4 linked regions of the Homo sapiens genome follow. The main gene of each other region encodes a partner of the protein of the gene in region 4 in a complex. Each region holds a gene or a part of one and is shown on either strand. Other genes may lie near its edges. The genes, in order: BMPR1A, RGMB, NOG and BMP2. A codon is read from its position in the direction of its gene.

The links.
Region 1: the proteins of BMP2 (region 4) and BMPR1A are in contact, whole or in part, in a crystal structure (PDB 2QJ9), measured with the Homo sapiens proteins. Residues at the interface, in NP_001191.1 of Homo sapiens: Lys297, Pro330, Phe331, Pro332, Leu333, Ala334, Asp335, His336, Ser339, Asn341, Ile344, Val345, Leu348, Asn350, Ser351, Val352, Asn353, Ser354; in NP_001393490.1 of Homo sapiens: His66, Cys67, Pro68, Asp69, Ile77, Thr78, Asn79, Phe83, Ile85, Cys100, Met101, Lys102, Glu104, Gly105, Phe108, Gln109, Asp112, Arg120, Ile122.
Region 2: the proteins of BMP2 (region 4) and RGMB are in contact, whole or in part, in a crystal structure (PDB 4UI2), measured with the Homo sapiens proteins. Residues at the interface, in NP_001191.1 of Homo sapiens: Val308, Gly309, Trp310, Trp313, Met371, Tyr373, Leu374, Asp375, Glu376, Tyr385, Met388; in NP_001353437.1 of Homo sapiens: Lys97, Arg100, Gly101, Leu103, His106, Ser107, Leu110.
Region 3: the proteins of BMP2 (region 4) and NOG are in contact, whole or in part, in a crystal structure (PDB 7AG0), measured with the Homo sapiens proteins. Residues at the interface, in NP_001191.1 of Homo sapiens: Trp310, Asp312, Trp313, Val315, Ala316, Pro317, Pro318, Gly319, Tyr320, Ala368, Ile369, Ser370, Met371, Leu372, Tyr373, Lys379, Val380, Val381, Leu382, Lys383, Asn384, Tyr385, Gln386, Met388; in NP_005441.1 of Homo sapiens: Ile33 (codon at 5,103), Arg34 (codon at 5,106), Pro35 (codon at 5,109), Ala36 (codon at 5,112), Pro37 (codon at 5,115), Ser38 (codon at 5,118), Asp39 (codon at 5,121), Asn40 (codon at 5,124), Pro42 (codon at 5,130), Leu43 (codon at 5,133), Val44 (codon at 5,136), Asp45 (codon at 5,139), Leu46 (codon at 5,142), Ile47 (codon at 5,145), His49 (codon at 5,151), His199 (codon at 5,601), Arg204 (codon at 5,616), Arg206 (codon at 5,622), Pro219 (codon at 5,661), Ile220 (codon at 5,664), Gln221 (codon at 5,667), Tyr222 (codon at 5,670), Pro223 (codon at 5,673).

The regions. Positions count from the first base shown.
Region 1 is NC_000010.11:86,885,399-86,892,694, reverse strand, and holds part of BMPR1A (bone morphogenetic protein receptor type-1A isoform 3 precursor), read right to left. Parts: intron 2,634-7,296; coding exon 2,471-2,633; intron 569-2,470; coding exon 466-568; intron 1-465. UniProt on the Homo sapiens protein: On ligand binding, forms a receptor complex consisting of two type II and two type I transmembrane serine/threonine kinases.
Region 2 is NC_000005.10:98,790,632-98,797,259, reverse strand, and holds the end of RGMB (repulsive guidance molecule B isoform 1 precursor), read right to left. Parts: intron 4,176-6,628; coding exon 3,507-4,175; 3' UTR 766-3,506; downstream 1-765. UniProt on the Homo sapiens protein: Member of the repulsive guidance molecule (RGM) family that contributes to the patterning of the developing nervous system. Acts as a bone morphogenetic protein (BMP) coreceptor that potentiates BMP signaling. Promotes neuronal adhesion.
Region 3 is NC_000017.11:56,589,218-56,596,197, forward strand, and holds NOG (noggin precursor), read left to right. Parts: upstream 1-4,481; 5' UTR 4,482-5,006; coding exon 5,007-5,705; 3' UTR 5,706-6,394; downstream 6,395-6,980. UniProt on the Homo sapiens protein: Inhibitor of bone morphogenetic proteins (BMP) signaling which is required for growth and patterning of the neural tube and somite. Essential for cartilage morphogenesis and joint formation.
Region 4 is NC_000020.11:6,762,669-6,770,922, reverse strand, and holds the start of BMP2 (bone morphogenetic protein 2 preproprotein), read right to left. Parts: upstream 3,238-8,254; 5' UTR 2,048-3,237; intron 804-2,047; 5' UTR 797-803; coding exon 451-796; intron 1-450. UniProt on the Homo sapiens protein: Growth factor of the TGF-beta superfamily that plays essential roles in many developmental processes, including cardiogenesis, neurogenesis, and osteogenesis. Induces cartilage and bone formation.

The sequences.
Region 1 (7,296 bases), on a different chromosome or scaffold from region 4:
GCACTTTGCGGGCCGATGCGGGCAGACTGCTTGAGCCCAGGAGTTTGAGACCAGCCTGGGCAACATGGTAAAACCTTGTCTCTACAAAAAATACAAAAATTAGCCAGGTATAGTGGCATGCACCTGTAGTCTCAGCTATTCAGAAGGCTGAGGCAGGAGGCTGGCTTGAGGTTGCAGTGAGCGGAGATCGCAGCACTGCACTCCAGCCTGGGCAACAGAGCCAGGTGCTGTCTATGGAAATAAAAAAGGAAATTGTAATCAAACAATTAGCTTTTCAGAAATGATTTAGTTATAAATTCTACATATGAATACAGGACAGAATCTAGACAGTAGGTATTCCTCCAATATATTTACTGATGTGAACATACAGCGATGTGTACACCAGGCATGTTTCTCCTGGGGGAAATCGATGCTTTCATATGGCCCCTCCCTTCTTTGTCTCATGGGTCCCAAATTATATCTTACTTTGCACTGAAAATCAGATCCTTCATATTTCATACACCCTGAAGCTAATGTGGTTTCTCCCTGGTCATCTTCTTCTATGATGGCAAAGCAATGTCCATTAGTTCTAAAACAGAAAAAAACAAAACAAAACAAAACATAAATTCACATAGAAAGTACTAACGAAATTTGAGTCTGAATGTGAACAGGTACAGATGGCCTTTAATACTTTGTTTTGTGACTTAGAATTGCATTCACACGTGATTTATTGGCAACGCCAGAGGTTTTAAGACAAATGAAAGTTATGTCTGAGCCAAGATCTAAAAGGCCAGTGACAACCCTTTGTCAAGAAGAAAAGGATTTCAATTAAACAAGTCCTCCACATAGGAGTTATGTGACTTCTCTTTGCTAATCAGTCATGTGATCACAGAAAGCTGATTTATAAAATTTTATGTCATGTTTTGAAAACATACTTTAAAATAACTTTGTCTCTTTTTACCCATTTTTTCAGTACTTCCATATTGTATATGATAATAGATAAAAACAAACTTTTCTCTGAAACATACAAATAGGCTTAATGACCAAAAAAAAGGGGACTAAAAGGCACCTTTTACTGAATATGATGGGAAAACAGGGAGAGGACTTTTGAATAAATTTTCAATAAATTTACATACATATATAATGAAATTCTTATTTTAGTGTTAGCATCCTGGAGTTTCCCCTTAATATATTCATATAGACTTTAACAGGTATGGGAGAAATTTCTAAAAGCTTTTTCTGTACTCCTATTTATTGTTAATATCAGGAATTGTGCTGCTTCTACTTAGAAGAATTTTGCAGAATTCTTGGTTTTCTGTTAGGAGAAAATGTTAAGTGTGGGGCAGAATTCTGTTAAAATGGATGATTCAGTTTTACTCTGGGTTACTAAGCTACTAACAGACAGCCCATTACATCAGGCAGGTACTACAGACAAGAAGTTTAGCAAAACATTATTTGGTGACATAGCAGAGAGCAGTTCCCTGCTGGCAAACTCTCACCAAGGTAAAAATGAACAACTAGTCACAGTCAGCCACGCAGAGCCCACCACCACCAGGGGACAAGCAGCAAACCTAAGACACGATGACCGTCATGCAGGTTCAAGAGTTTACGTGTAAAGTTTCATGCTTTCTATCTGGTCCATTCAGGGAACATACAATTATTAAAAGTATAAAACATGACATTCATTATTGCCTCTATAACAAGGAGACAATTAATTGACTGATGAGGTTGAGTTGTTCAGGCAATTTTTTTTGGTCTTATTAAGTCAATATGTCAATGTTTCCAACAAATATGGACTAGAATTACATGATCATATATAAACATGTTGTGCAGCTAACACGAAATACACTAGAAAAATTAAAATCATTTTATAAATCAGATTTGGATTGGTAAATTCACAGGTAAGAAAAAAGCATAAAATTAATTAACACAATATGATTTATATATATCTGCAAAATATTTCAACTAATTAAGAAGTAGGAGGCCAGGTGTGGCAGCTCACCCTAGTAATCCCAGCACTTTGGGAGGCTGAGGTGGAAGGACTGCTTGAGCCCAGGAGTTTGAGACCAGCCTGGGCAACATAGCAAGATCCTGTCTATAGTTAAAAAAAAAATTTTTTTTTAAATTAAAAAGAAGTAGGAGGTTGTCAGTGAGTTTTCTGATTTCTTTTTTGGTAACCTCTAAGTTTTCTAAAATGAGCATCAATAAATTTAAGATTAAAAGATCATTAAAAACTCAGATGTTAAATACTAGATCCCTTTGATCTTATTTTAAAAGCTGCATTATAACATAATTCTAATATAGTAACTCACCTATCAATCATTTAATGGAATAATGTTCTAATATACAAAACAAAAGGCTTTTTGGCTTTCTGGAAAGATACTATATATGAATGAAAAAAAAACCGCAGACAAGTTTAATAATTCTTAAAATAGCACTAAATGCAACTCTATTCTCCTAACTCTTAAGAAGGGCTGCATAAAATACTTACATGCATGTGTTATTAATAGCATCATCTGGACAGTGCCCTGAGCAATAGCACTTTAAAAAAGGCAAGGTATCCTCTGGTGCTAAGGTTACTCCATTTTCTGACTTTTTCTGGTCGGAGTCTGATTTCATCCCAGTGCCATGAAGCATACTATCCAGATTCTGTCCTGCATTCAAATATGGAATTTGTAAGTAAATCATTTCTGAAAAGCTCATTGTTTCGTGACAATTTTCAATGAGAAAAAGTTGTTAAGCTTTCTTATCACAATAATTGTAGCTAGCATGTTTCTTTAGAAATATAAATTTCATTCATACAACAAACAGACATACATTATTATGCACAGAATTACTGCACCAGGTATTGCGGGGTACATGAAGACAGCTATATCACAATTTTTGCACTAGTGAAAGACAAACAAGAGTGGCGCAAGGCAGAATACAGTCAAATCTTGTTTTTTATATTTTTAAAATAACTTAAAAATTTTTTAATTTAACCAGGGAAAAGCATGAACGCAGTCCCCCACCACCACAATTATGCAGTTGAGTTTCCCACATTTGGGGAAATCGCAGGGGTCAGCACATCTGGAGTGCAATGAATAAGCCTCGCCCTGGGAAAACCACCTTCGTGACCGTGGTCTCTCCCCTGCCAGGTAAAAGTATATAGTCATCACTTGTAAGAAAGGTACAAAAGGGGGAGAGACTTCACAGAAGTCTGTGAGAGTTTCCAATCATTAAATAGAGACAAGTTATGATTCTTCTTTTAACTCTTTGGTTCAAAACTTGTGACCAGCTTTCCTTTATTTGTGCCTCTATGTGGAAAAGGAGTTACTAAGCATCTTGCTTTGGCCTTTAATTGCTTAAGTAAGGAAATCATGAGAGCATGGGGACCAATCATGTTATCTGGAGATTTTCACCTCGAGGTCATTGGTTTGAATGCAGACGATGCTGGCAGAAACTGAAGGTTATAGAAGGGCAGCAGTTAGCTCACAGAAATAGAACTATGTTCTTACACTAGAGTCTAGCAGCCTGCAGTGACAGATACTGTCATATTTGGTACTAAATCTTTCAGGCTGGAAGCAGAACGGAACTAAAAAAACTGTTCTAGTAATTACTTCCTCTCTCTGACTCAGCTAGGCCATTCTTTGTGGGTTACTCTCAAGGGAATGAAAGGTGGAACCAAACAGACAAGTGTATATGTATTTCATTATGAATGTTAAATAAGTGGTTCAAGACACAACACAGACTTGATTTTACATTTACCATACTGATGAGATAAACTACTGAAAAGACAAAAAATATCACATATGCACACACAGGTAACAGAAAAAGTGCTGCTAAATAGTGTTTTGATGATTACATGCCTTCAGTTTCAATAATTTTCACTTTTTTTTTTTTTTTTTTTGAGACATGGTCTCACGCTATTGCCCAGGCTGGAGTACAGTGATGTGATCAGAGCTCACTGCAGCCTCAACCTCCCAGGCTCAAGTGATCCTCCCACCTCAGCCTCTGGAGTAGCTGGGACCAAGGGCACATGCCACCATGCCCGGCTAATTTTTAAATTCTTTGTAGGGACAAGGTCTCCCTATACTGCTCAGGTTGGTCTTGAACTCCTGGGCTCAAGCGATCCTCCCGCCTCAGCCTCCCGAAGTGCTGGGAATATAGCCGTGAGCCACTATGCCTGGCCAATAACCTTCACTTTCTTATACCGAATATTTAGTAAAAGAATTTGCTACTGAATGAGTATAGAGAACATTTTTATTTGAGATAGAGTCTCACTCTGTCACCCAAGCTGGAGTGCACTGGTGCAATCTCGACTCACTGCAACCTCCGCCTCCCAGGTTCAAGCAATTCTCCTGCCTCAGACTCCCGAGTAGCTGGGATTACAGGCACCCCACACAACGCCTAGCTAATTTTTTTGTATTTTGTTGGTAGAGACAGGGTTTCACCATGTTGGCCAGGCTGGTCTCAAACTCCTGACCTCAAGTGATCCACTTGCCTCAGTCTCCCAAAGTGCTGGGATTACAGGCATGAGCCACCGTGCCCGGCCAGGAGAGAAAACACTTAAAAAAAAAAAAAAAAAGCTGGAAGTTTGTGTACATACATATATTACTCATCCCCGCGCCCCCCACACCACTCTCCTTTCAGAAATAAATTCCGTAATATAATGTCAAGGCTTCCGTTGGATCTGATTGCTACAAAGCGGAAAGACCTCCTTTATGTTAGAAACATCAACTGTAAAAGATGGGGTGGGGGAAGCAGGAGGTACAGGAAGGGAAGAAATCCACTGAGCAGGAAATGAGGAGACTGGGATTCTGTTTTGCCATGGGCCTACCCCGCTTTACCTAGCTGGATGGTCTTGGGCAAGCCATGTCACCTTTCCAGGCTTCATTTACTCTATAAGGCTACAGGACTAGAGGACAGGTGAGGGAACCTGACCAGCTTTAAAATCCTATTACATTAACAGAAGACACGTATCAATTCAGCTCTGGAAAACAAACAGTATATAATATATCACAGCAACTGATTTTTCAAAAATCTAGTGACACAGAAAAAGCAGTTTAGTGTGGCAGAAATATCACTTGAGATAACAGCAAGAAGTGAAGGGTTCAAGTCGCAGTTACGGGCACAGATAAGTTACTCTCTGAACCTCAGCTATCTATAGAAAATGGGGATAATAATTCCTGCCTAATTCAAATCAAGAGGTTATAGGTAGATCAAATGAATATTTACTAAAGTGCTTAACTACATGTAAAATAGTATACAAATGAAGATGTTACTAATAACAAAGATCAGAACACTAAAAGATCACTGATACATGAAAAAACTCAAAGTTATATGAAACTTCCTAGAATACTATTTGAATTCATGAGACAAAAAACTCAATTACAGTAGTTGTATCTGGAGCTTATGTTATTGCCAAATATTCAACAGAATACTTAGTAGGGGTCTATTATGTGCAGGCAAGGTATTAAATGCTAGAAACGCAAAGATGTGGCATCAAAACCACATATGTGGCCTTGAGAAACTTGGTGGAAAGCAGAGGGGGAATAAGCACAAAAGCAAATAAATACAATGTGAAAAGTGACAAAATACAAAGGCCAGGCGCGGTGGCTCACGCCTGTAATCCCAGCACTTTGGGAGGCCAAAGTGGGCACATCACCTGAGGTCAGGAGTTCAAGACCAGCCTGGTCAACATGGTGAAACCCCGTCTCTACTAAAAATATTAAAAAATTAGCTGGGCGTGGTGGCAAGGCGCCTGTAATCCCAGTATTCAGGTGGCTGAGGCAGGACAATCACTTGACCTGGGAGGTGGAGGTTGCAGTGAACAGAGATCAAGCCATTGCACTTCAGCCTGGGCGACAAGAGCGAAAATCCATCTCAAAAAAAAAAAAAAAAAAAAGTGACAAAATACGGAGGTGTTTACATGTAAACAAAGGAAAAGGCTCATCCTAGGTGTCAAACTCAAACTGATCTTAGGTGTCAAAAGTAATGAAATCTAAGCTACATCTTAAAAACTTGCAAGATTTCACCAAGCAGATATTGAATACAAAGAAAAGTAACAGGAAAGAGCCTCTCTGTGCTCTCCCTAGGGGACAGCGCCCACTCTGTTGATGGTTCCTGGATGTACCCCCTCTAGCCATGACCTGCTTAGACATCTCCTGACTGACTTGTCTTAAATGAACTCTTGATTTGCCTCAAACCTGGTCTTACCAAAGTCTTTTGGCTCAACCTCCAAAATGTATGTCAATTGTTTTCATTTTTCTCCAACTCCGCTGTTGTCACCAAGGCCCATCACATCATGCCTCTACTAAGGTAAGAAGTCTCCAACTGTTCCCTCTGCTTCTGCTCTTGGTCCCTGCAATCCATTTTCCACAGAGCAGCCAGAGACATTTTATAAACACAAATCTGTCACTCCTATATAAAACCAATCAATGGCTCCACAATGCACTCAGAATAAAATCCAACCTCCACTGTGTGCTCCCAGGGCCCAACAGGATCTGGGTCCTGCAGGCCTCACCATCATCACTTTACTTGGCACATGGCCTTCTGTCAGTTCTGAACATGTCAATCTCTCGCCACCCACAAGTCCCGTGTATTTACAAAGAATAAACTACGAGCCCTGGGGTGGACTGGGGGTATAGGTTATATTTCAAAACAAACACACACAAAATATTTAATAGCTTACATGTTTAAGTATAACATCTCAGGAAAAAATGAAAACATATACATACAAAGAGACAAACAGTTACAAGAGACACATGACCATACACAGGCACATTTACAGGTCCTTGTCATCAACAGCAATTTTTGGCATCAATGATTTTACTAGATTTTTATTCCTGGCTAAGTAATTTTTCATATTTTCCCAATAATTTATTGGCTTCCTTTTTCTACAGCAAATAAATGCCCTCTGCCGCAACCTTAAGATAGAATGTCTACAACAGAACTCAGATGGCAAACGGTTGGTGAGACCAATGGGCTACTGATGCACTATACATATGAGATAATCAGCAATGGTAGCCTAATGAATTCTGCAACAACAGTCTGCATCATTAATTAAATAGAAACCAGGAAGACATCAGCAGAAGGAAAGTCAAGTACAAGGAAGCAAGAACTAGGGAAAAGGTGGCATGTCTACAACTGTGCTGTCCCATATGGTAGCCACTAGCCACATGTGACTTAAAATGTAGACGAATTAAAATGAAGTAAAATTAAAAATCAGTTTCTCACCCACACTAGTCACAACTCAAGTGCTCAAAAGCCACATTTGGCTAGTAGCTATCACACAAGACAGCAGAGATATAGAAAACAGGTATTGGTTTTGTGGGC
Region 2 (6,628 bases), on a different chromosome or scaffold from region 4:
AAACCCTGCCTTCAGTCTCTACAAAAAATACAAAAATTAGCTGGGGATGGTAGCATGCACTTGTAGCCCCAGCGACTCGGGGGGATCACTTGAACCCTGGAAGTTGAGGCTGTAGTGAGCTGAGACTGCACCACTGCACTCTGGCCTGGGTGACAGAGTGAGACCCTGTCTCCAAAAGAAAAAAAAAAAAAAAGAAGAAATGATTACATGTATGTTTATCCCAGTCAGAATCTGATCCATTTAGTATTCTACCTAATACAAGTAACAGTGCTTCTCTGTGCCTTTTGTTTCAGTTATTTTCCTAACTTTTCTACCCTTTGGTGTGTTTCTTGAACAAAGACCAACTTGTGATCTCTTGATGTCTCTTTTTAAAACCCAAGAAGTGAGGATTTGTTTTCAAAGCCAGAAAATCCTGCCTTCCCAAATCCTCCCCACCAGGAGGAAGTCGTTACTGTTCACATCACCTTAAAAAGAACTAGAGTGCAGGCTGTATGTCTTCAAGGGACCAAAACTGTTACTAAAGACAGAACTTTGGGACAATACTAGTGGACCAATCTCACTGATACGGATTTGTAACTGCTTAAAATTTCAAAAGAAAAAAAATGACAGTAATGCTATAGTTTTGAAAATCAGCGAATTTGTGGGCAGGTGGCATGACTTATCAGTAACCTTTAGGGATTTTATACAATTCCCCCTCCCCCGACTCCCTTTCTTCTGCAGCTCTCAGTTCTTCCAGCAGGTGTCCCTATAATCACAGAACAGACATTCCACAGCAAGGTATGTAACTTTATTTTTCTAGCATAATAATTTAAAGTATTTACACACTGCACACTCACTGTTTTACACAGATACGTATTCATATATCTATGAACCACATCTAAAGGTTTCTTTGCAAAGACTCGACACACTGTTGGGGGGGGGGGAGCTTCCAAGCATAACAAAGAGGACAAAAAAAAGTTTTGAGTCTTTTAAAGACAGCCATGTGGAGCATCTGTGAAAACCAGTGTTTCCCCCGTTTTAAGCTCCCCCAGGAGACCTCTGAACAGCTATAGCCTATCCACATGTTGGTATGACCTGAAATTCTTCTAGCTAAGGTTTCAAGAACCAACATGTGCAAGCAGCATTTTTTCTAGAAATCTCAAAAAAGGAGAAAATAAACCTGGCCCTTACGTAGAGAAATACATCTATTTCTGAAAGTAATCTGTGGGGATTGTTTTACAGGGACACCGATTACAAGGGCAGAATAGCAAAATACACTATTACTAGTGATGCAGGGTGCTTTTAAATGTCACTTCCAGCTAAATGATATGGCAAAATAACCCAATCTTCTTTTCCCAACTATCAGTAAGGGTGGTTGTTATTTTCCCTGAAAAGAGCAAAGGTATATTTATTAATGATACACACTCTAAACCCAGATCCTATAGAAATTTCTTCTATTGCTTTTACTTCACTTTCATATTATTTGCACAAAAATAGTGGTTATCCTCCGTATTTTTTCCTCGCTTGTACTACTCAATTATAAAACAAATTATTAACGATAGCTTCTGAATTTGGTACATGGCATCATAGGTGAACAAAAAAAGCCACAGTTCAGAGCTGATGGTCAGTCCGTCTCTAGTCCAGCTTCTATAAAAGGAAGGCGGGTTTAGGTTTCAACTCTCTATAGTTGAATCTCCATGAGTAAGAAGGAGATGCCTTCCTTATTTTCCCAGACTGCCCAAGATTATTCTCTCATCAACACAAGGTAGAGGTTTGCCACCTCTACATGAATTCACAACTCCACTCTGTGACTGGGTGGCACATCAGTTCGCTAAGAAGTTAAACTTTACAAAATGACGTCCTCTTCCTCTTGCCGGTATGGGCCTCTGGCAGTGTCACTGATCAATAGGACATGGCAAAAGTAACTACCTGGAGAACTAAAACTAAGCATAATCTTGGCCTGAACTACTACGGTAAAGATAGTATCTTTTATTTCTGTTTATGTAAACTTATCAACAAATTATTAAAGCAGAAACTCTATCACTTCTTGGAACTAAAGATTTACATCTAGCTATAACAATAGAAACCTACCTATCCTGGAGTTAACTTTCTCAGATTACTGCTCCTGACTTTTGCTGTTCTTTTCCTTTTGCAAGGGGGTGCCAACAATGGATGGAAGAGGCAAGGAGATCTTACTTTATAGGAATTTCTCCAAGTTACAACGAGCAACTGACCAAATCATATTCAACTACAGGTGTTGAGAGAGAGAGTACCTGACTTCAGACCACCTGGGAAGCACAATGCTTAGTTAACAAGAATATCTGGATTAAGCAGTGCCGAAGTGGCCGCACACCGAGTCAGGCCAAGGAAGCTCTTCTGTCATTGCCGCCCAACTCTGTTCCACTTTGCATGCAGACATATCAAAGACTGTGATGAAGATCATGGTGGACAAGGAAGAATGAAAAACTTTGTGATGGGATCTGGGCCTCTACATTAGAGAAAGAACCTAACAAACCCCAGTTCTTTGGATTCGTAAGGTGAGGCTGAGGAGGGCTTACTGGAGTTGGAGACAGGGAGAGCTGTGTTTCTGGGCTCAAAGCCAAGAAACGGTTAAGAAGAGGGGCTTGCATCAGTCATATAGATTAAAAAGAGCAAGGCATGATAATTACTAAATTTATAGTTTCATGTTTTAACACAGAAGAGTCAGAGGGAAAACTGACAATTTAAAACGGGGCATGGGATGAGAAAAAGTCTAGGAGTTACTGAGATGCCTGGTACTTATCTACAAAACTTCCATCACTAGACCCTTTTGACCTACGAGAATAGCAGTTTCTATGGTTCAACCTAATACACTGTATGGGCTCAAATATATAACAATTAGAATTGAGAGTAATCAGAATACCAATAATACCCCCCCTTCTGAAAAAGTAACAGCTCTTAGATGAAGAGAGCTTCTTAAGATCAGCGTTTAAGAGTCAAAGCACCTGTAAGGGAGAGTTAACGACCCTTTCAAATCAAGTGAGGGCAGAAGGGTGAGGGCATAGTTCAAAGGAACGAGGCAGCTCCACCGGAAGGTGGCGAGTAAAAGCTGCACACCGTGGCAAATCAGTAGCAATGGGAAAGGGCAGGAAGGTACAGCCAAGAATAGCTACAAACAACTGGTCACCTTCAAAGGAAACGCTGCATATGGATGTCTGTGTATATGTACTATACATATCAACCAAGCACACACATAAATATTTAATATATAAAAAATAAAGTGCTTTCTAACAGGTCCCTGGGCAGGGACATTATAAAACATTTCACAGAACTGCAAAACAAAATTGATACAATCAAAGAACACTACATCCAACATATGTGAAAACAGCCAAACACAGTATGTACAATCTGGTGGGTGTCCCAGGACAAACATCCTGTCATATACATGGTATATACATATATACTCTTTTACTCAATATATTATGACAATATATATTTTAAAATTTTGTTATAGACAAAAAATAAAAAACCAAAACAAAAGACAACCCCTACAAAAACACGATAAGGATCAAGCAGGTGAGTCCTAGACTGACAGACAAATCACTGCCTCCACGGGGAGTCCCATTGCCACTGCTGGGGAAAATGTGCCAGCGTTCCTTCCTTGGGTGCAGGGCCTCCACATCCTCCAAGGCACTGTGGGCTGCGGCAGTAAAGTTGGCATCACCAGTGGTGAGCAGGTCGAAGACACAGGACTGGAAATAGATGTCCTTCACTGGCATCTTCTCATGGCATTGAGTGTTGGCAGTCTCCAGTGTGTAGCCAGGCCAGGCCTGCACCAAGGAGGTGCGAGGCAGGCTGTGTCCCAGGATGGCAGACACCTGGCCCTGCCCGTCATCGATGCGTTCACTCAGGGGGCAGCCGTTCACGCACAGCTGCAGGTCCTGGCTCTCCTCGTAGGACATGGCCAGGTCTTCAGGCATACGGATGGCAAGGGTCAGGTAGCGACCCACCTGCCGCACAAACACTGTGGTCCCTATATAGCGGGCGTGCATCTCCACATAGTGGCCACTCTCCCTTTCCACGATACGCAGGCTCTTGGCATCGCTGTCCCCACCACTGGTGGTGCCATCCACAAAGGCGGCCGGCAGGTCATCTGTCACAGCTTGGTAGACTTTCTGATCTGTACACTCATGGTGGGCTTTGAAGATAATAGTGATCTGTGGGAAGGAGCATGTACAAGGTTTAACAGAATGGGAAGGAAGCAGAACGGGGTAACCCTCTGTAGCAAGAGCTCCCCGCCATTTTGAAGCTGAATGGCTTAAGGCGGAATCTCCAAAATGGACCCAACTGCTTGCACCTCAAAAATGGATATCACTTTCAGAAAATATTTTTTAAAGTCCTATATATTTAGAACTAAAGTTTAAATAAATCTGTGCATCAAGACAAAACTTTTTTACTTTCCTAAGAGAAAGAGTGAGCAAGTGAGCAGTGTTGCTATCAGAATATCGGTTTTTTTTTTTTTTTTTTTTTAAGTGACAGGGTCAGCTCTCTTGCCCAGGCTAGAGTGCGGTGGCACATTCATAGCTCACTGCAACGTTCAACTCCTGGGCTCAAAGGACTTTCCCACTTCAGCCTCCTGAGTACACAGGACTAAGGGCATATACCACCATGCGTGGCTGATTTAAAAAACTTTGAAGTGAGGGGGTTGGTGGGGGGCGGGGGGGATGGTGGAGGTCGGGGGTTCCTCACTACGTTGCCCAGGCTGGTCTTGAACTCCTGGCCTCAAGCGATCCTCCCACCATCATCTCCCAAAGTGCTGGGATTACAGGCATGAGCCACTGTGCCAGGCCAGATTATGGGCAATTTTTATTGATAATTTATATCTTGTCTGCTTCCAAAGTGGATGAGTCATGGCATAGTTCTGAGAAAAGAAAAAGGCTCGTTTCTGAGTTATTATGCAGAAACTTTAAAGGGCTTAATTAACAATATACCTAACAGAACTTTGCTTCCTACCAAGATTCTTCATAGGATTAAAAAACTGTATCCCATGACTCACCACTACAAACTTACTCGAAATACAGAGAGAAAGAGTTGAGGAGGGGGCACCCCAGTAACAGCCACCACTCATGTACCCCAGGAAAGATTTCTATTAGTCCCTTAATCAAATGTTTCACATCACTGGCTAATCCCTGCGACAGGGAAATCACCTGGCAAATATAGCTCCTAAGCACTGGCAGAGACTGAATACCCTAAACCTAGTTACAGCAAATGTTTTCCCAAACAGCACCAGAGTCCCTTAACTCCTCAGAAATCTTTTCCCAGCCAACTCTCGATTCTCCAAACTAAGCACATAAATTCATCAAAGAAAAAAAATTACTAATAATACAAAAGCTTCTCTTTTGTAAACCCATGTTCTTTCCTGCAGAATCCTTTAATTAGAACAGTTAGTTAAAAACCTTGCACACCTTCACCTCCAACATATCCAACATCTCTGGTACAGGTGGTGGAGGGAAGACAACTATGATAAGACAGGGGCTGCTGTGTCACACAACATGGAGAAACTATTTCAAAGAAACAAAAAAAGACCAGATTTTGAGAATTGTATCATTGCTAGTAACTGAGGCAACAGGGTTCTCTCTTCCTTCTTGAAAAAACAAAAAGTATCAGGTGACTTCAGTCAGGAGGAAGGTAGACAAGCCAAACACTCTATGAATTACTCGGGATGGAGGAAACCTTCTACCTCCTGCAAGGAAACTAATCGAAACAATAGACCCTTGTGAAAAAGACCAGAAAATGCACCCCCCTCCCCCCGCCTGCCCACCCGAAGTCCTCACCACCACCCTCAAGTTTATGTCTTAAGTTTTTCTCCAACTCGGCCAGCATTTGCTCACACTATTTAATTCCACTTGTTCCCACTGGTGTTACTTGACTGGAATTTTCCAGCCATTTCATTTTACTTCAGCCAGTTATAAAGCCAGATCTGAACCAGCTGCACTGTAGCAACCGGTTAAATTCATATCCGCTGTGTGCAGCTGCAACTAAAAGCCAGACAATGTACTATGAAAATGCTGGGTTTTCTCCCTTCCTAATTACCCTGAGCCACAACTTGATTTCACTACCAGCCTTCTCACATTTCAACACCTTCTTAACAACCCAAAGGAGGTGCATCAGAGATGATTTCAGGAAATTTGTTGTGCATCCAACCATAGGACCTTTCAGAGTGAATGGGGGTTTTGAGCTAGATATCTAACGGGACCATAAAATAGATTTATTTGGTGGCTCTAAAATCCGTTGACAAGTGTTTTTTTTTAAGGCATGCTGGGATCCCTTGGAGATGAAAAGATTGATTCAAGAAAATTTTGCACCTGAAAAAGTTGAAAGTCAACAATACAGATGGCTAAAATAAGAGTTAGTAATAGACTTTTTATATAATCACTATGCTCATTTTCACCTGTAACATCTACTCAAAGATTAAACTCTTCAATGACGGCTAAATAATTCGTCTTTCTAGTCTAACAAACCTAAAATTTAAACCAACTTGATATTATCTGCAAGAACTACTTTTTTGTTCACCTTAGGAAAAACAAAGAGGATTTACTTGTGTTGGGCCAACAAAGCAAAGATAACCGATTCCAAACAAGTTTCCAAAAAGCAAGCAAGGGTCCATATT
Region 3 (6,980 bases), on a different chromosome or scaffold from region 4:
CTCATGCATTCTCCAAGGACGTCTCATGGTCCTTGAAAGGTAGAGTGTCTCACCCAAGGTCGCACAGCTGGTAGATTGCAAGTTTTCTGACCTCAAGCCCCATGCCCTTTAGGCGTCACCCACAGTTGCCTTAGGTCTATGTTTCCAGGGCCAAAGAAGCAAGAAGATTGTCAAGTTGTTCTTCGAATCATGATAGAAATAAGAGAAGATACATAAAAGCACCCTCAGGCTCCTCTTGCCTTTGACCTGGAGTTGCCCCAGCGACTGTTTAAAGGAGTGCTTCCATTTACCTTGCCCAGAGAATTTTGCAGGGACAGAAACCTGGGATGGGGCTACCCAGGGACAGGCCTCCATTTATGTTGTTCATTAACTCTTCCTATGTAGCCTCCTGAGGCCTAAGTCCCCAACCAAGCCCCACTACAGTCCAAGCACCGCCCACAGCGAGAGTCAAGCTGATAGCCGTACTTCCATTGGCCCATCTTCCGCCCACAGCTTCCTTTGCAAGAAATACAACCCTCTTTGTCCAGTTTTGTCAAGCTCCCTCTTCAACAGAACCACAGAAGCATCAAAATGGGTTGACTACAGAATCTCCTAAGAAACTACAGTCCTCCCTCCCTCAAACTCCTGAAGCCTGGCAGCCCTCAAGTTGCACAGATGGAGTGGACAGAAAGCAAGTCCAAAGGTGTTGGAGTTGATTTCAGCAGCATCCTCACCCCTTCAACCCTCTTCTGCTCAAACCTGAGATGGTTGGCCAGTTGAGGGCAGTGGGGTTCTCTGAAGAAGTAACGTGTTGTAAAACCATTGCCCGATATAGGCTCTGCCCCAGGCACCTTACTAGGCTAGGCATTCCTTACCTCTTTTACGTGGCATGATTCTGAGAGGTGTGTATCATCCCCATCTTACAGATGAGAGAATGGAAACGGGGTGGTTAAGATGACTGTTTTAAAAAGGTAACACAGCCGGTGAGGGGCACAGCCAGAATTCCAACTTAAATCCACCTGGTCCAAAAGTCGTGGTGCTTCCCTGTCTGGGACATTTCCTCTTCCACCTCTCATATCCCCAGATTTTCTGGCTGTCCCTCATACAAGTGTGGTTCCCTTCTTCATGTAGATGTATATCCTATCTCTCAAATCTCTTCCTCTCCATACTCAGATAAATACATCCTTCTTCATGAAGCTCAGCTAAAATTCAGCTCTACCATTAAGGTCTTAGTACTTCCTAGTCTCTGATACCAACATCCCCAGGTTCACTCAGTACCTAAGCGCATGGGCTACTCCAGTGTGGCACAGAGTTAGGAGTTGCAAGCTTCCCAAATGTGGCATTTCAGAACTTCACATTGAAGAGGGGTAGATATGGTTTGAAAACAGTATAGCTAACATAATTGCTTGGGCTTCTTTTTGGTTATAATAATGTATTTTAAAAACTTTAAACAACATTCAAAGAAGAGCATGATATTGTTATATCTATCAAAAGGGGACATGGATTTTAAAAAGAAAAGGTTATAAAAAACTAGTCCACACTGTTATGGGAATTTATAAATTTTTCTGATGTCCTTTTACTATTTCTTCTTGTGGTTGTCATATCTCCCCTAACTGTACTACAAAAGTCTTGCAGGATGGAGACTGACTATGAATTTTTTCTTCTTTGTATTTTTCCTGATGGTCTTCACCCAGTAGATACTCCATAAACAGGTCACCCAATCTGTTCTCAAGCATGATTTGTTTCTGGTTCCTGAGGGACCTTTTTTGCTGTTCAGTCAAATCTGCTCAGCCCAACTAAATAAAGGATCTGGGTTGGTTTTCAAGCAAAAATAGGTGATTTGAAGGAGAGAAGAGGGGGATTAAAAGAACAGAAACCAGCATGATATAATGTCATTAATTGGAACCTACCATCTCAGGAGGGCTGAGCTAGAGTTTAGCCCTTGAACTCCACTAAATAATTTTCTTAGTTAATTCACATCAGTGACAAAATTGCTCTGGAACATGTAATCTTCATAAGGAAACAAACTAGTGCTGAATCCCCATAAAGCACATAAAAAAGAAAGAGGTATGCTTAGGAGCCTACTATGTGCTAGGTTCTTTTTTTGGAGGGGGAGGAGTTGGGGAGGTGGGAACAGAGTCTCACTCTGTTATTCAGGCTGGAGTACAGTGGTGCAATCTCAACTCACTGCAACCTTTGCCTCCCAGGTTCAAGTGATTCTCGTGCCTCGGCCTCCCAAGTACTTGGGATTACAGGAGCCTGCCACCACGCCCAGCTAATTTTTTTTTTTTTTTTTTTTTTTTGTATTTTTAGTAGAGACAGGGTTTCAGCATGTTGGGCAGGCTGGTTTCCAACTCCTGACCTCAAGTGATCCGCCTGCCTCAGCCTCCCAAAGTGCTGGTATTACAGGCATGAGCCACCGTGCCCGGCCTGTACCAGGTTCTAATCACACATTATTTCAAAGTCAGCCCAATTCAAACAACCAATGGGTTGTTGTTAACTCCAGTATCCATCAAAGCAAGATCTCCTTTTGAGCAGTCCCTTGATAGTCTAATTCTAGTTGTCTAGACTTTAAAATTGAGGGAAACGCTTTCAGCGGAAACTGCCCACCCCTTTTAATAGAGGTTTTGCAGAAAGACTGTAGTATGCAACAAAGTGTTTTCTTCCTTAGACAGATGATAAACTTTGGGAGTTGGGGTGGGGCAGGTTGAAAGGAAAAACCAGATCTTTGGGGAAAGAAAGTTAAGCGATTTAGGTTGTCACAATGGGACCTCTTAACTCCCACTCCATGGAAGACTGGCAAATACTTGAGTCATCCACTCCAAGTCTCTCTTCTCCAGCTTTTTCCAGATTCCAATCACATTCACCACAAAGAAAACTGAGTTTGCATTTTAAAGCTGAGATTGAGTTCCTCGTCCAAGGGGAAATTAACCGGAGGTGTCCCTTCAGTACCCATCTCCCATCAAAGAGAAACTGCTTCTGAACAAGAGAAAGCATCGTGGAGGTTTATTTAAAATCACAGAAAGGTAGGGCTGGAAGAGAAATCTATTAATAGTTACGTCACTAATGCGAAAAGTGAGAAAAATGACTTGTCCGAGTTATATCAGGGTGGACCCCGGGCAAGACTCAGGTGCCTCTGCTGTCAGCTCACCTTTCAAGTTTCTGGTCCCCACTCGCACCCACTGAGACCAGAGACCGATTTACCTGAGGCAGAAGGTGCTGCACGCATTCTTGTGAAATTTGAGGGGACCGAGAAGGAATCTCAGGAAGTTTGTTTACACTGGGGGCCTGGAGACCTTCGGGAAAATAGCCAGAACCAAAACGGACCAGTCAGCAGACGCAGACACACACAAAGTGACAGGGACACAGAAGCAGAAGCTGAACTGGGCAGAGCGGGCAGCGGCCGACCCACCTCGCACGGCCGCCCCCGCCAGCGCCAGGTGCAGGGCTCATAGCGGGCCAGCAGAGGGCGCGCCGCCCCCAGGGAGCCGAGCGGCGGCCGCGCGGAGCCGGGCGGGCTAGGGGAGCCGCAGGCGAGCCAGTCGCGCCCCTGAGGCTAGGCCACTCAGGGTGCAGGACCCGGCCAAGGAGGAGGAGGATGGTGAGGAGCGGAACCCCCTCGTGGGCCCGAGGGGCAGACAGACAGGAGTGCTTCCTAAGAATTACATCACGCTGCGCAACGCTGCGGCTCTCGGACTCCCTGGTGCAAAGGGGGGTGGGGTAGGGGCTGTGTGTGTGTGTGTGTGTGTGTGTGTATATATGTGTGTTGGGGGGAGGGGACTTAGAGCAAGAGCCCGGGAGAGAAGAAGACGCGCTCGGGGAAAACGCTCCATGCACATGGAGAAATTTCTTGCTCCGAACTGCATGCACCGAGAAACGAGCCCCCAGCACTTCCCCGCTGCTCCCCTCCCAGTGCAAAGCACCCAGCTAGTGAGAAACCCTCCAGCCCCACCTCAAGCACCGCCCCCCCTCCCCAAACACCGGCTCTGCACCCTCCAGCCCGGCTCCAGCGCCGCCGCGAGCTTTCCCCAGGACTGGCCCTGGCGGGGCGCCTAGAGCCCCAGTTGCATTGCTCCAGGAGAAAGGAGGGGGGCGGTGCATTTTGCAGGAGGAGGAGAAGGGGGGTGGGTGGTGGGGGAGAGAGAAAATTGCGCGGAGACCTGCCAAGCGCCACCGCCGCCGCCACCGCCGCTGCCGCCGCCGCCGCCGCCGCCTGTGAGCTCCGGCGGGCAGCCGGACTGTCGGCTTCCCGGGGCATCTGGGTCCGGCGGGGCACAGCCCTGGGCGCTGCCGAAGCCGCCGCCGCCGCCTCCGCGGCGAGTACAGGCGGCTTCCCCCGGAGCCTGTGCAGCTCCAGCTCCTCGGGGGTGGAGAAGTGGGGGGTGGGGTTGTTGTTTGGGGGGAAGAAGGGGGAGGGGGCAACGCCGAGAGAGTCAGTGGTTTCCATGGTGATGGAGCTGAAAGTGCAGGAAATTTAAAGGCTTGGACCCTGCGAGACAGACAAACCGGTGCCAACGTGCGCGGACGCCGCCGCCGCCGCCGCCGCTGGAGTCCGCCGGGCAGAGCCGGCCGCGGAGCCCGGAGCAGGCGGAGGGAAGTGCCCCTAGAACCAGCTCAGCCAGCGGCGCTTGCACAGAGCGGCCGGACGAAGAGCAGCGAGAGGAGGAGGGGAGAGCGGCTCGTCCACGCGCCCTGCGCCGCCGCCGGCCCGGGAAGGCAGCGAGGAGCCGGCGCCTCCCGCGCCCCGCGGTCGCCCTGGAGTAATTTCGGATGCCCAGCCGCGGCCGCCTTCCCCAGTAGACCCGGGAGAGGAGTTGCGGCCAACTTGTGTGCCTTTCTTCCGCCCCGGTGGGAGCCGGCGCTGCGCGAAGGGCTCTCCCGGCGGCTCATGCTGCCGGCCCTGCGCCTGCCCAGCCTCGGGTGAGCCGCCTCCGGAGAGACGGGGGAGCGCGGCGGCGCCGCGGGCTCGGCGTGCTCTCCTCCGGGGACGCGGGACGAAGCAGCAGCCCCGGGCGCGCGCCAGAGGCATGGAGCGCTGCCCCAGCCTAGGGGTCACCCTCTACGCCCTGGTGGTGGTCCTGGGGCTGCGGGCGACACCGGCCGGCGGCCAGCACTATCTCCACATCCGCCCGGCACCCAGCGACAACCTGCCCCTGGTGGACCTCATCGAACACCCAGACCCTATCTTTGACCCCAAGGAAAAGGATCTGAACGAGACGCTGCTGCGCTCGCTGCTCGGGGGCCACTACGACCCAGGCTTCATGGCCACCTCGCCCCCCGAGGACCGGCCCGGCGGGGGCGGGGGTGCAGCTGGGGGCGCGGAGGACCTGGCGGAGCTGGACCAGCTGCTGCGGCAGCGGCCGTCGGGGGCCATGCCGAGCGAGATCAAAGGGCTAGAGTTCTCCGAGGGCTTGGCCCAGGGCAAGAAGCAGCGCCTAAGCAAGAAGCTGCGGAGGAAGTTACAGATGTGGCTGTGGTCGCAGACATTCTGCCCCGTGCTGTACGCGTGGAACGACCTGGGCAGCCGCTTTTGGCCGCGCTACGTGAAGGTGGGCAGCTGCTTCAGTAAGCGCTCGTGCTCCGTGCCCGAGGGCATGGTGTGCAAGCCGTCCAAGTCCGTGCACCTCACGGTGCTGCGGTGGCGCTGTCAGCGGCGCGGGGGCCAGCGCTGCGGCTGGATTCCCATCCAGTACCCCATCATTTCCGAGTGCAAGTGCTCGTGCTAGAACTCGGGGGCCCCCTGCCCGCACCCGGACACTTGATCGATCCCCACCGACGCCCCCTGCACCGCCTCCAACCAGTTCCACCACCCTCTAGCGAGGGTTTTCAATGAACTTTTTTTTTTTTTTTTTTTTTTTTTTCTGGGCTACAGAGACCTAGCTTTCTGGTTCCTGTAATGCACTGTTTAACTGTGTAGGAATGTATATGTGTGTGTATATACGGTCCCAGTTTTAATTTACTTATTAAAAGGTCAGTATTATACGTTAAAAGTTACCGGCTTCTACTGTATTTTTAAAAAAAAGTAAGCAAAAGAAAAAAAAAAGAACAGAGAAAAGAGAGACTTATTCTGGTTGTTGCTAATAATGTTAACCTGCTATTTATATTCCAGTGCCCTTCGCATGGCGAAGCAGGGGGGAAAAGTTATTTTTTTCTTGAAGTACAAAGAGACGGGGGAACTTTTGTAGAGGACTTTTTAAAAGCTATTTTCCATTCTTCGGAAAGTGTTTTGGTTTTCCTTGGACCTCGAAGAAGCTATAGAGTTCAATGTTATTTTACAGTTATTGTAAATATAGAGAACAAATGGAATGACTAATCATTGTAAATTAAGAGTATCTGCTATTTATTCTTTATAATATCCCGTGTAGTAAATGAGAAAGAAGTGCAGAGCAGGATTAAAGAAAACCACTAAAACCGACTGCGCTCCACACTGATTTTCTGTGTTGGTGATTGATGGGGGTGGGAGGGCGTGGGAGGGGGCGGGTAGGGGATGCTGCTGTGCCTCCTACCCCGTTGGGGAAGGGGCTCATCCCCTCGGACTCCCCTCCTGTGGTATGATGGAGGTGACTTAGTTTTTTGAGGGCGTTGGGGGGGGGGGCGATATTCTCTAACCCCTCACTAAAACATCACGTGGCCTCCGCCTAGTCTCCTAGCTTTTCCCCCTATGTCACCAAAGCTCGGGCCTGTAGTGACCTCGACACCCAGCCGGCCCCCTGGAGCTGACCCCAGGCTGGGCCGAGGGGCGGGGGGAGGGTGGGCGGCCGCTTTGTCCTGCCTGACAGGCCCTTCACAATGGGGACACGTGTCTTTCACACCTACCCTGGGGGCGGAGTGCCGCTGAAACTTGACCCCCGAGGAATGGGGAGGGGGGGAGATCAGAGCGCGCCCACCCAGATCCCGCCACCCCTCCCGCCTCGTACCCCCCACCTCAATATCCAGCCCATGTTAACCCTTTGCATGCCCGGAAGCTACGGTGGTACGAACTGAGGCAATCCCTTGGAATC
Region 4 (8,254 bases):
TCTGCCCTTGGCTCTGTCTACCCTAAAACCCTGGCTTAAGCGGCAGATTTATAGAGCAAAAGCTTCCAAACAGACTTAAAGAAATCTCAATCTGCCTCCCTTTTTCTCCTTTTCCCTCTGTGGAATTCTTGCACGTTTAGCTGACTAGAGGCATGCCTTTTGCCCTCATCTTCCCCATCACTTGATTTCTCTCCAATTCTTCCAGGAGGAGTAGCTCTTCTGGCTGCAAGCCAGGAAGAGGGTGCGGAGTTACTAAAGGGGAATCCCTGGCTCCCCCACCACACAAGCAGTGAGTTAAAATCAGATTCAGAAACGATAGTACAGAAGCAAGAGTGGAAACGTCCGCTGGTGCCCCGGCCAAGCTGCCTCTACAGGGACGGCTGCAGTCTGCCCACGGTGGAGGGCTTTGCAGGGTGACTCCCCGCCCCCACGCCCTGCTCCATGCCTCACCTTCATGGTGGAAGCTGCGCACAGTGTTGGCTCGGCTGGCTGCCCTCTCCAACCGGTGGTCTGGGGCGGGTGAGCCCGGCTGACCTGAGTGCCTGCGATACAGGTCTAGCATGTAGGGGGGCACCACGGCGTCCCTGCTGGGGGTGGGTCTCTGTTTCAGGCCGAACATGCTGAGCAGCCGCAACTCGAACTCGCTCAGGACCTCGTCAGAGGGCTGGGATGAGGGGCGGCCCGACGACGCCGCCGCGAACTTCCTGCGGCCCAGCTCCGGAACGAGGCCAGCCGCGCCGCCCAGGAGGACCTGGGGAAGCAGCAACGCTAGAAGACAGCGGGTCCCGGCCACCATGGTCGACCTGCGGACAGGACCGACGTGAGTCACCCGAGTTCCCCGCCCAGTCCTCCCCCCTCGCGCCCCCGCGGCCCGGTCTCCCATTTGGCTGGCGTGCCTCCTCCAGGATGCCCTCCTGGCTTGGCACACTCACGAGTCTAGGTAAGACCGACCGAAGCTCAAACGTTTGGGATAATGAAGGGTCCCAAGTTCCTGAACCAGATGATTTATCGCTCCCATCCAACGCTTAGCTCGTCTGACATCAGATTTGGGATTTGCCCTCCCCCCCAACCAAACCAGCGCCAATGACTGTCACTTTTTTGTGTGTGACACAGCGCTGACAGCCAATGCCGGGAACCTGGGAAAACCACCGCTTGATCTGACACCCTGCGTCCCCTATACAAACCCAAATGCGGAGTGCTGAGCGCTGTCTGGCATATAAACACACATAAATGGTGCATGTGACTTCCTTAGAGGCACTGTATAGAACTTCCTGACACACACACACACACACACACACACACACACACACCCTTATAGCTTCCAGACCCTGTAAGCTCAAGGCCACAACTTCTGAAGCCACTTATGACTTGTGTCCCAGGCCCCTACCCTCAGGGGTGTCTCGAAAGGCAGCTCCATCCCGCATCCCCACAGTGCAGTCAAGATACACATGTATCTTCCCGGGATTACGTAAATGGTGAATATCTATTAATGCACGTGTCAGCTGTTAAAAACACAGTACCAAGTGATCCTTCAGTACTGACCCCTCGCATTTCTGGAAACAAGTAGGGAGAACCCCAAACTCCTAGTACTTTCCTAAATGGGACACGGCTCTGAGCAAAGAAACCAAGTCTCCCGGAAACACTTGAAGAATGGAGATCACCATGGCAGAGCGGACAGGTTCTCAGCTAACGGGTGAAACCCAGGGGCTACCCTCTCAAAGGGATTTCTTTGACCCAAAAAAGTTTTTAAAAAAATTAAAAATAAATAAATAAATAAATAAAACACCTCATCTAAGTGTTAACAGCTCCAAAAGTATTCCAGGGAGAGGGGAAGAAAGAGGGGTGGAAGAGTGCGGGCCGGGAGGGTGAGGCTTACGGTCGCCCGGGGCAGCTGGAAGTGGGAGCCCCTGCAGGGCTCCGTTGCACGTGGACTGGAGAGGGGTCTGTTTACTTCTGGCCTGGACGTAAGGAAGGGCTCTACCGCAGTGGCTGCCCAAATCCCCCTCCCACCCACCACCCACCCCGGGCCCTGGCCCGCGTCCTCTACCTTTAGGAGACCGCAGTCCGTCTAAGAAGCACGCGGGGACACGTCCATTGAAAGAGCGTCCACATGGAAAAACTCTGGTCAAAGGACCTGGCGCAAGGACCGAATGTCCGTTCCTTTTCTTTGCCTCCTCCTTCTCCCGGGTGCCGGCCGCGCAGTCTCTCTTTTCACGCTGGGAACAGCGTCTCAGTGTCGGGCAAGGCCGAGGAGTGGAGGGGCGGTGGGGCTCGGAGATGGCGAAGCAGGCTCCGCTGGGGCAAAGGCACCGGCGCAAAGTGGGGTGCGCAAGTTATTCTCCCTGCAAGTTCAAGAAGTCCCCAGCCAAGTGCTGACACACAACAACAGCGAGCAGGGGGAGGAGTGCGGGGCAGGGAAGGGAAGGGAGAAAGGAGAAGCTGGTGCTGTCGTCCTCCTTAGGAACCAGCGCCCGAGGGACGCGTGGCCCCGCGCGGGGCCGGCTCCGGGACTCGGGGGTCGAGGGTCGGGCGCTCCGCGCTAGCTCCGCCGCGGCCCATGGCTCGGGGCAGCCATCCTGGGCGACGCCGGGTCCAGGGAAGGGCACGGCGGCGATCTCGGTGCCAGGCGAGTTGCCCCCCCGCATCACTCTGCCTTACTCCAGTGCACCCCCATTCGCGCTCGCCAGTTGAAAGCACCGCGGCTCTGGCGCCCCGTCGTCCTCGGGCGCATTCTCCGGCGAGTCGAGCCGAGTCCCGGGCCGCCGAGGCGGGTGGCTGTGCTCTCCCCTCGCTCTCCTAGCCCTGGGGCCAAGTGCCCTTTGTGGCTAGCCTGGGGTCCGATCACACCTCGGCCAGCGCGTCCCAGGCCCCCGATCTCCTGCAGTAGGTGCTCCGCATCGCGGCGCTAGGGATCGGCTCCGGAGTCCCCGGCGCTCTGCGCGCCCGTCCGCGGCTCTGGCGCAGCCCGGGCAGCAGAGGCCACGGCGCTGTGGCGCGCTCTGCCGGGTGCTCCAGCCCGCGCGGGGTCTGCGGCGCGCGGGTGCCTCGCGGTCCCCGGTGATCCACTCGGCGCTGGCCCCGAGAACGTTCGGGTAGCCGGCGGAGGCTGTGGCGGCAGATGTGCGGCGGCGGCTGCCAGTCCCCGGCGGGGTGTGGGAAGCGGAGCGACTAGCGCAGCGCGAGCCGGGCGCAGCGCGGCGGGGCGAGGACTCCGGCGGCGGCGACGGCGGCGGCGGCGCCGTGGCGCGGCGCTCGCGGCTTTTAAAGGGGACGCCGCCTGCCGGCTCCCTCCCGGCCGCGGCCGAACACCTCCCCCTTCGCGGCGCGGCTCGCCGGGGATCCCCGAGCGGGCGGGAGCTGCGCGCAGGGGTGTGGACGGCGCGCCCGGGCAGCCGCGGCGGGGTGGGGCGGAGGGCGGGGGCGCGCGGCCGCCAAGGGGGGCGCTCGCGCCTCCACTCCCTGCTCTCAAAGGAGAGATCAGCTGGCGCGCCGGACCCTCGCGGGGACTCTGGAGGCGAAATCCAGGACAAATGCAGGGTCAGGGTCTGGCCTCTTATTTCCCCGCTGGGCCCGTTATTCAACTTTCAGTTTGAAGTTTTTCGGTAATATACGATTTCAAAAAACAAAACAAAACAAAACACCTCAATTACAGCGTATTTTGGCATAGCATAGACGTGGGATCCACGCTTCTGTTTCCCCGGAATAGGAGGAAAATTAAAAGAAAACAGCAGGCTGGAAATTGAGTGTTTTTAAACATTAATACATAGAGATGTATGTATTTACATATGTAAATGCATGTGTACAAATTTTTTTACATAAATGTGTATGCATTTATTTTCATATCCATACGCATGTAAATTTATAGTTACATAAATATATCCAATATACAAAAATATGTGCATATATTTCTATAAATATATTCATGTATGAGAATATATGCAACCGAAGGGCCACATTTCGGTTAATATGTCTATGTATGTGACATGGATGTCATCCTGCTTTACGTGACATGTGTGTAACGTAGACTGCGTGTGTGGCAGACTGAAGGATGGATGGGAGGGATTTGATTTTTTTATTGTACAATCACTTTGTGCCTTGTGATATTTATCTCACCCAGCTCAGAGGCAGGCGATTAGCAGCTCAGAGGAAGGTAAAATAACGCACTGTGTGAACCAAGCATACAGGACAATTCCAGTTTGGGACCTTGGAACCTTCTACGCCACCCTCTTCCACCAGGCCCCCAAGAAGTAGGGCTGTGACACGTGGCCAAGTCACTCCTCAGCTGAATATTCACTGAAGTCACTCCTCAGCCGAAATACTGCTCAGAGCTGCTGCACGATGAGTCTGGGGCCAAGGCTTTCTGCCCTTCCCAGGATTCCAGGAGCCCCCATGCACAGCACCTCGGGCTTGCCCAAATGATCCCCAAAACCAAGGGCAGAAAATTTTTGGAAAAGGCCAAGTTCTGCTTTCCCAGAGCTATCGGGCCTGCGAAACAGAGAGAAAAAAGTCAGAAGCAGGAGCTGGTAATAGAACTATTATCCATGTGTATTATTTTTTCGGTAGGGGAGCTAAAATAATACTAGGTTCCGCTCACGTAAATCGGATTAGCAACCCACAGAGGCGAATTAGGCACTTGCTGTTTCTAAAGGTATAAAGGTCAAATAAGGTATTTTGGAGGAAGCCTGACTACCAGGAAAATAAAAGGGGGTGGGGGAATTATTCAGGAACATGCTACTTTATTTCCTGAAAAAAAAAAAAAAGGTGCTATAGAAGTTGATTGTCACTCAGAGTCATTGCACCGCAAACAAGGAGGCAATAAAACATATCCTACTCATGGACACAGGGCTTCTGAAATTATTTCCTTTCCTATCAAGTTTAATTGAGAAGTTAACAATTGTTTCTCTCATTACTTAGATTTCAAAAACAAAACAAAACAAAACTTCAATGAGATTTAAGTAGCTTTTAAAGAGGAGGAAAAGTTGATAACTATTGGATGCACCCGAAGAAAAAATAAATAAATATCCTGTGATGACCTCAAGGATGTCTTGCAGCTTTAGAACTTCATAACCTGGTAAGTGGAAACCTTGTCAGTTTAGAATCTGAGGGAAAATGGGTACTTCTGAACACTGTTTCATGTTAGTGCTGCCCATTGCAGAATCTCTTTTATGTAGGGTGTATGATTTCTGAGGAACTACTGAATGCTTGTTCCAAGCACAACTTACATAAATTTTGGCCCTATTTTTTTTTTTTTAGAGATGGCTGCCCTCTTGTGGTGGAAATGAGTTCGAACGCTTGAAAGAAAGAAGTCCATAAATAAATAAATAAATAAATAAGTAGTCTCCAGAGACTGATTTGGGATCGAAGTACAGGATGACTGTACCTACCCGTTTTCCAGGGAAGAGCAATAGTCAGAAATGATAAATCTAAATACAGACGAGCTATTTCTTTTTTTTTTCTCTCTCTTCACTAATGGCTACCTTCCACCTGCAACTTAGAATGCTGGGTTATTTAATACTTTGGGAGAGTGTCTGTTTGCCTTGAAAATATCACTTGCAGCTAACCATTGTCAATTCTACCGTTTTCAAAGGTCCATTCAAAGTTTTTCAGTTCAGAGGGTGAGATTCAGTCTTGCTGAGTTTATCAGACTTAGTGCATCTGCCAGCAAATGTGGAAGGGGCAGAGGTGGGAGTGGGGAGTTGTTTAAGATAGGGATAGTAGAAGTTGCAAATTCAAATGCATCAGAGGGTACAGACAAGTTATGTAAAAAAGCAAAGATGACCAGATAATGATTCCACATAAAGGAGGTTGTTGCTATTCCATTTCAGTCATCTCTTGGCAGTTTCTCAGGAGATAGTGGAAATTTGCATTTGATTGTGTGTGGACAAGACTCGGGATGAAATTAACTGCTTACAGTCATACTTTAGCAATTTTAGCACTTCAGCTCACATGATATTCCATTTTATTGCATTCTGTAGCTATTAGCATTCAGTATTGTTCTTGCTAGGCCAAACATTATGCAAATCAACATTAAAATAGTGATCCCCATGTATTGTAAAGTTCACAGCAGGCATTACGTGATCCATCTACCTTGTAATTGTCATTCCATGGAAACCTGTGGCAACTGCCCTGAGAAACCCTCTTTGCTTTTTAGCATACATATCGCTTTGTTACAAGGGTGACACCCATAACCATCCCTACTTACTTTACCTGGATGAAGTTTTTTTTACAGGAACTTGGAGCCAAGGCAAAAGAGAAGCATTTAGTCAATCAAATGTTTTCCTTTTTGGTGTTTGATTAGACATGGTAGAAAGGATGGGAGAGGTGGAGTGATTTATATCAGAAACTAGGCCAAGTTGGCCAAATCAGGATCACTGCTTTCAGCAAGTACCAACTACATCTTCTTAAAAATTAAAAAGAATGAATTTTGTGCATTGATTAGACTGTCACACAGTTTAAGATGTACACCTTAAGTTATGTCTGTAAACTATGTTGATAACACTCTAAGATGTAGTTGGGTGACCTGGGTTCTAATTCCTGGTTCTGTCATGGATGACTGACTTTAAAATGGTCATTTCATCTGTTAATTGGGGTAAATAAATATATGTTTGCTTGCTTCAGACTGACATGATGAAGGTCAAATGGATAACATGTGTGAACTTAGTTTCTGATTGCTACTCACTCTATGTATCTTCAAATGTATTCTTTGGCCTTCTGTCTGCAATATGGCCTGGTTTTAAGAAATAGGACTTTGGATGCCTTTCTTCTCCTCCTCTTTCTCCTCCTTCTCCTTCTCTTCTCCCAGCTTTTATTATATTGCCAAACAGTGGATATTTCATCAGAAAGGCCACCAGTTGGGTCAGTCAATCTAAAGCAGAGGTCCCCAACCATTTTGGCACCAGGGACCAGTTTTGTGGAGGAAAATTTTTCTACAGACCAGGTTGGGGGTGATGGTTTCAGGATGAAACGGTTCCACGTCAGATCGTCAGGCATTAGTTAGGTTCTCATAAGGAGCATGCAACCTAGATCCCTCATACATGCAGTTCACAGTAGGGTTTGAGCTCCTATGAGAATCTAATGCTGCTGCTGATCTGACAGGAGGCAGAGCTCAGGCAGTAATGCTCCCTCACCTGCCCCTGGGGGTTCCTAACAGGCCATGGACAAGTACTATTCATGGCCCGGGGGTTGGGGACCTCTGATCTATGGCAGTAACAAATTCTCATAGCCTCGGCTCCCTCATGAATACTCTATAGAGACTAACAGTTGACTTCTCATGGAGGTTGTGAAGAATAAATGAGAAGATATGTGTGAAGACAACAAAAGGTTGCAAATTTGTATTACTATATACATGCAAATTAAGGCCATCGGTTCTGGTTCTCGAAAGATGTGAGTTTATCTTATGTGATTTTCTTTTGCACTTGGTAGATTTCAAAAATATGGGTTGAATGAGCACATGCTTCTGGAAAATGATTATAGTCTTCAAAATAAGACTCCCCTGAGAAGCCTGTTGGCTTTTTAGCATGAGTAACACTTTGTTACTAGTGCAACACCCAATACCGGTTCTGATTACTTTACCTCCATGAAATTCTTTCATGGGAACCCCGGGAGCCACAGCAAAAGAGCAGCATTTAGTCATTCAAATGTTTACCTATTTTGCATTTGATTAGACATAATAGGAAGGATGAGTGGAGTGGGGTAATTTATATGCAAAGCCTAAGCCAGGCCAAATTGGCCAAGTACGATTGTTTTAAATATCCACTACATATTATTTAATTATCATATACTAATACATTTGCATACCTTGTCAATGATATTAAAATGTTTTGACTTTCTGTTAAATAGACTGTGAAGAGTCAACTATAGTATTTCCTTTTACATACAGTCTACAAATATTTATTGAGCAACTACAAAGCCCACGGCACTATGTTATTGGGCTCCAGTTAATACAAAAGTACATAATCTCTGCACATAATTTACTTAGAATTCAATGGAAGAAATGCAACATGTTTACGGGTAAATACATATAAAATATATGGCATATGAGATAAGAACTTTAAGGGAGTTGAGAAACAATTGCTTCAGGTTTAATGAAGAGCAACTCACTTCTGAAATGTGGAACAAAAACCTTGCTCAGTGAATGTCACTACCCTTATTTTACAGGTGAAGAAACTGTGCTTGGAAAGGTTAAGTCATTTTTCCAAAGCCACATGGCTAGCAAATGGCATAGCTTACACTAGACTCATGTTTTGGGAGTTTG